Regions from separate parts of the Homo sapiens genome. Here region 1 is linked to region 2. The links come from fine-mapping of genetic effects on gene expression. A gene starts in region 2. The other region holds a variant in brackets. All regions are shown on one strand. Distances are between the middles of the regions.

Evidence for each region. PIP is the estimated chance that this variant, and not a neighbour inherited with it, causes the effect.
Region 1: its variant is the best candidate, but not a certain one, in a credible set for the expression of ARID5A in monocytes (TOPMed, PIP 0.90).

What each region holds. Positions count from the first base shown.
Region 1 is chr2:96,625,304-96,628,209 of GRCh38, reverse strand. All of the region lies in intron 3 of KANSL3 (KAT8 regulatory NSL complex subunit 3), which reads left to right. Among named protein-coding and RNA genes, the nearest start is that of KANSL3, 12 kb to the left of the region's middle. The variant C/T (reference allele first, on the strand shown) is at 1,561.
Region 2 is chr2:96,535,239-96,538,144 of GRCh38, reverse strand. ARID5A (AT-rich interaction domain 5A) reads right to left here and starts at 1,393. Exons shown (of 7, transcript NM_212481.3): 1 at 1,315-1,393. The coding sequence starts at 1,318. RefSeq lists silencers at 225-434, 1,115-1,474.

The DNA of each region.
Region 1 (2,906 bases), 90 kb before region 2:
AGCTGGATGTACACATCTTTCCTCTAGGCAAGATGAGTCCACGGAATAGGCCAGTGTGCACCTTCTCCTGCCTGTCCTTTAGAGAAACACTGACAGATTCTTGTCTTTGGCTTATCTTTCTCCAGTCTCCTTGTGGACCACCACCCTTCTGTTATGACATTGCCACATTGCCACAGATTGATGTAATCCATTAAAGCTCAATTTATCAGATTATTTGTTTTCTTAGTGTCTGATGAGATTTTGGAGGCCTTCTCTCATTGGCAGCAGGCTTACACACCATCTCTTTTGGTAGGTAACTTTTGTACATAGCCGATTTTATTATTTATGATAACTTATTAGTTTCAGTTTCAGATACCACCATTTTATGACCCTGTCCCTGAATCTGTAGCCTGTTTGGAGCTTGCAGTTCCTTCTGCTCTGATTATAATCATCGTGTTGCCATTCTTTCCCTGACTTGATTGTTAAATTGCTGCTTCCTTTCTTCTTATATAAAGTCATGTAAAATTAGTTTGCCACATCAAGAGCTCCATGAACGGTGTAGGTCGGCTCCCTAGAACTCTGGAGTTCTTTCCCGGAGAGTTTACTGATTGCTCTTTGTCTGTGGAGGCAGAAACTTAATTTCCTTGTTAAGAGCTTTTTTCCTCTCTCTTGAATGATTTCAGTAGAAACTGTCTTCAGATAGCTTTGTGTATATAGGCTAGGCGCAGTAGCTCTCGCCTGTAATCCCAGCACTTTGGGAGGCTGAGGCGGGAAGATAATTTGAGGTGAGGAGTTTGAGACCAGCCTGACCAACATAGTGAAACCCCGTCTCTACTAAAAATAGTAAAAATTAGCTGGTGTGGTGGCAAACGCCTGTAATCTCAGCTACTCGGGAGGCTGAGGCAGGAGAATCTCTTGAACCTGGAAGGCAGAGGTTGCAGTGAGCCGAGATCGTGCCACTGCACTCCAGCCCGGGCAACAGAGCAAGACTCCGTCTCAAAAAAAAAAAAGAAGCATGTTCCTCCCTTCCCTGCCCCTGACTCTGGCTTTCTTTATTAATGGCTGATATTTTGTGAAATGGTTTAAATATTACTACCTTATTTAATTGTCTGCATTAGTGGTTGTCTAACTATGACAGTGGGCTGATTTAAATTTGGCCCATTGCTTGTTTTTGTGTGGAATGATTTTTACATTTTTAAATAGTTGCAAAAAAATTAATACTGTTTCATGACACATGAAATTAAAATTTCGGTGTGCATAAGCTTTTATTGAGATACAGTCATATTCATTAGGTATTATCCATGGCTGCTTTTGCAGTAAAGCCACAAAATTGAATAGTGGCAGAAGCCATATGGCCTGGAAACCCTAAAACATTTTCTGTCCGGCCTCTTATAGAAAAAGTGAGCTTCCTGGGTCATGTTCTTGTGTCTGCGTGCCATGGCATGTGACTTAGAGGACCTTTGAAAATGATTTCTATTTGCTGGCATAGTGATGTAGTCCTGAAGATGTTGGGCCAGCTTTTTTTTCCCTCCAGATGTTTGTCAAATGTGAAGTTTCATTAGTTGCATAGCTTTTGAAAGA[C/T]ATTTAATAAAATTTTCCTGACACATGATACTTCTCAGAATTGCTCAAATGGATTTTAGGACATTTCCAACATTTTAGTGAAAGAATGTAGTAGTATCCAAAAGCAGGCTTTCTTATCTTAGAAATCAGAACTTCTGAATTCCAGCCAAAAACACCCCATTTTCCTTTTCTGAGCCTTCTTTAGTTTTATATTCAATATTGTATGTATCTGTATAAATCTTAGGTTGGATGTTTGAAATTTTAAGTCCAAGGTCTTTGAGTTATCGTCCCTCCTTCCCCTCCCCCACCCTCTTTATTTCCCCTTCCTTCATTCCTTCCCTTCTTCTAGTGTTTAGACAAAGAATTTTATAATCTGAAAAAGGAAAGTATGACTGTTGAGTTTATCTGATGTACTTTGTGTCTCCTTGTTTGACTTCTGGTTAAAAAAAAATCCTTTAGATATTTTAATGTTGAATTAATTAGTCTTCTTTGAAACAGTATCCAAAATAATGATTACCTTTGAAAATACCAGATATTTTCAGGACCAATGTTATATTTTGGCTGCTTTGAATAGAATGAGCCAGAGGTCAGCATATCATTCAGGTTCAGTCAGAGCAGGGAGAACAAAAGATTTTCTGATCTCATCTAAGAAAGGAAGAAAAGACATTTTTGCCCTCATGAAAATTGAATAGGCGGGTGGGGCACGGGGTGGGGAGTGCCAGTTGGCTCACCACAGTTCCCATCAGCTATTTGACTGTTTAGGCTTGTATTTAAAATTCTGTCTCCTGTTTTTAAAATTTTTGCTAATTATATCTCTTGCATGCTCTTTATCTTAATCTTGGTTTAGATCATTTTTTTTCTGCCCACTTAATTTTCTAGCCTCCCACGAAGCTGACAAAATATAGAGATCATGTTTCAATTCTTGGAGTCACTTTGTTATATATCCAGCAGCAATCCTAAGAACTTTTTCTGGGATTTTGGACTCTCAACGTTGTGGTTTTAAAATTTAATTTCAGCTGTCATTGGTGTATGGTAATAATTTCTAAATAGCTTTCTAACCCTCTGCATCTTGCATTCACATCATTTTCCTTACTCCCATAATTTTGGATTGCAGAATTAATACAGAGTAAGAAAAACAAATAGGGAAAGCATCATTATGTAATAAAAACAGGATAATTTTGGAAATGCTGTTGATATTTCATAAATAAATTATACCTTATTCTCTGTTGTTGGAATTAAAGTTTGCAACGTGATCAATAGGCTTTGAGAAAGCTCCAGAGATTGTTGAACATGAAAAATTGTATTCGTTGCTTAACCTGGTTGATTATAAATTAGCATGATTGCTAGAGGTAAGGCTGCAGTATACT
Region 2 (2,906 bases):
AGCAGATTATCGGAGGCCCTTTCTACCTCTGCCACACCAAGTTCTAGGCCCCAGGCGGGTCCCTAAGGCCTGGATTGGGCTCTGAGCTCTGCTGCGGGGTGAAGCCCTCGAGCCCCGACCTCCCACCCCTCCTGTGCTCTAGCGTTGCCTGTAGGCGCAGTGACGCCACCGTGCGTGTGGGCTCCCACCAGAGGAGCCCGGGTGGGGCAAGAGGCACCTGTTGTCCTCCCCTGGGGCCCGCGGAGCACTCCTTACTGGCCCAAGACTCTGCAAACAAAGGGACACTGGACCCGCAGCGCCTTGGGACCCCCTGGGCCCTCGGGGGTCCTGCACCGCGCAAGCCCCACCACGCCGGCGCTGGGCGGAGGGTGACGCGACCCCAGCCCGGGCGACCCCTAGACACCGCGGAGGGACGGAGCGCGGGCCCGGGTTGGCCCGCAGCTCCCGCCGAGCGCGAAGCCGGGCATCGCCTGCAAGCTCGTAGCCCACGCTCTTGCCCTCTTCCCCTGACGCTCCCCAGCCGCCACCCCGTCCCTTCTGCAGACCGAGGGAAGACAAGGGGACACACAAGGGACAGGAGAGGAGAGCAACCAGGGAAGCGACCCCTCTCCTGTGGGGCTGCGGCGGGTGGGCGGAGAGACAGGAGAGGAAAAGAGAAAAGGGAAGAGAAGGAAGGGGCAGGGGGCGAGAAGCCGGGCTCCCCGGACCATCGGCGCAGCCCGCGGCCGAAAGAGGAACAGTGGATCCTACAAAGCGCATTGAGCAAGTTCTTCACACCCGCGCAGCCCCTTTCAGGAAACGGCGGCCGCAGAGGAAAGGGCCGCGCGCTCTGGACCCGGAGTCTGTGCCCGGCGGCGCCGCGGTTCTGAAACCTGCGGGATGTCACGGGGCGGAGGGGCGGCTGCCGACAGCTGTCACAACAAATTAGCTGAGCCCAGCTCGAGGTGGAAACCGCAGCAGGAAGTGGGACGACAGAGCCGTACCGGGCTCGGCATATTTCAGGCAAGAGACGGCGAAAAGAGTTTCGAGATAAACGCCCGGGAAGCCCCTGGCCGCCAAAACTTTTTGTCTTTCCTTTTCTCGAAGCTCGCGCGGACGCCCAGCCTCACCCCTTCCGCGCCGGCCGGGGAGCGCTGAAGCCGCGGGCCGGGCTCGCTCCCCTTGGCCCGCGCCCCGAAACCCACCCCGGGCCCCTCTCCGCCCCACACAGCGCACCGACTGCCACGAGGGCTGGAGGGGACCCGGCGCCGGCACCTTGAACCTCCCTGCAGGGCCGCCGAGCCCCTGTCCGGGCCGCGCCGCAGAGCCGCTTACCCATGGCCCGGAGAGGTCCCGCGGCGCCCGCCCCGAGACCCTCAGCGCGCGGCTGTCCGGACCCCGCGCTCTCTGAGATACTGGCTCGCGGCGCGGCCCGCCGGCCACCTCCCCGCAGTCCCGCCCCGTCCCGCCCCTGCTCGCCCCACTCCGGGCTCCCATTGGTAAGCCCGGCTTCGTCGCGCGGAGAAGGCGGGGGGCGGGGACCGCCCTTGAGTCCGGGGACCTCTGGGAATTGTAGTGCGCGCCCCTCGCCTCTAGGCTTTCAGACTGGAGCCCCTGGAATAGGCTCCTCACCTAGAGGAGCGGAGGCAGGACCCTCAGTAATCATTGCTGCCTTGTGCCTCAGTTTCCCTGGAGGCAAAACTAGAGCCTTGGAAAAAGCCTCCTTGCTTTCAGCAGAGCACTGAGGACTCTGTGGAGCGAGCAAAGTGCTTCTGACTTTGATTTGAAAGTGGCCCTGTGCATTTCCCAGTCCCCACCTAGCCCAACAAAGAAGGCCAGGTGAGGCCGGGAGCGGCGGCTCACGCCTGGAATCCCTGCTTTGGGAGGCGGAGGCGGGAGGATCACTTGAGCCCAGAAGGTCGAGGCTGCAGTGTGTTTTGATCACACCACTGCACTCTATCCTGGATCCTGGGCAATAGACGGAGACCCTGCCTCAAAAAAAAAAAAAAAAAAAAAAAAAAAAAAAAAAAGGAGAGGTGGTTAGTGTGAGCTAGACAAGGACCAAACTAGTAAATCCTTGGCCTAGGCTCTGTGGCCAGGCCTGCCAGTAATAGTCAATGTCCACACACATAATGCAGACAGAGTGTGGCAGCTACAAGCTGAGTAGTCCAAAGAAGGGGCATGAGTTCAGGCTGTGGGAGGTGGGAATGAGGCCTAGGGCGAATGGAGGCAGGAGGAGGTGCCCAGCCAGCCATAGCAGCAACCTGGACCTGTGCAGGCCAAAGAGGAAGAAATGGAGGCTCAGGGTTTCAGTCTCAGCAGGTGGCTAGCTAGGATGGGAACCCTGTTCCTAGCACATAGAAGCTACACAAAAATCTTTGTTGATGAATTTTAATACTCATAATAGCTCTATGCACTTGACACCATCATTGTCCTCATTTTATAGCGTAAAACTGAGGTCTGAGAGATTAGCTCAAGTAGCACAGCTGGTAGGTGTTGGAGCCAGAGCTAGACCCAGGAAGAGGAGCCCTCATACCCAGGCATCCCCCCACCCGCTTTGCACCCATTACTAACCACTCATCATACTGGTGCCCCTCCTCACACTAAACGAAGGGACCAGGGCTGCAGTTTGGTGAACCTGAAACCCTGGCCCTTACCCTTTGGCCCTGGGATGGAAGATGTCTGCAGGCTCAGTCTAGAGCAGACGACCCTGTGGGCTCTGCAGGATAAATCCCCTGTCTACCTCATAATGGGTTGGCTTGTAAGAGCCAGCACCTGTAGAATTGGTAATAGACACCCAGAACAATCATAATGGTAATTATAACAATGCATCCCACTTTGGCAAGTTTACAAGCCACTTTCCCCTCCAGGAAAGCTAAGGCTGTGGTGGAAGACACTATGATGGGATGCCATCAGGAAGCACCTTT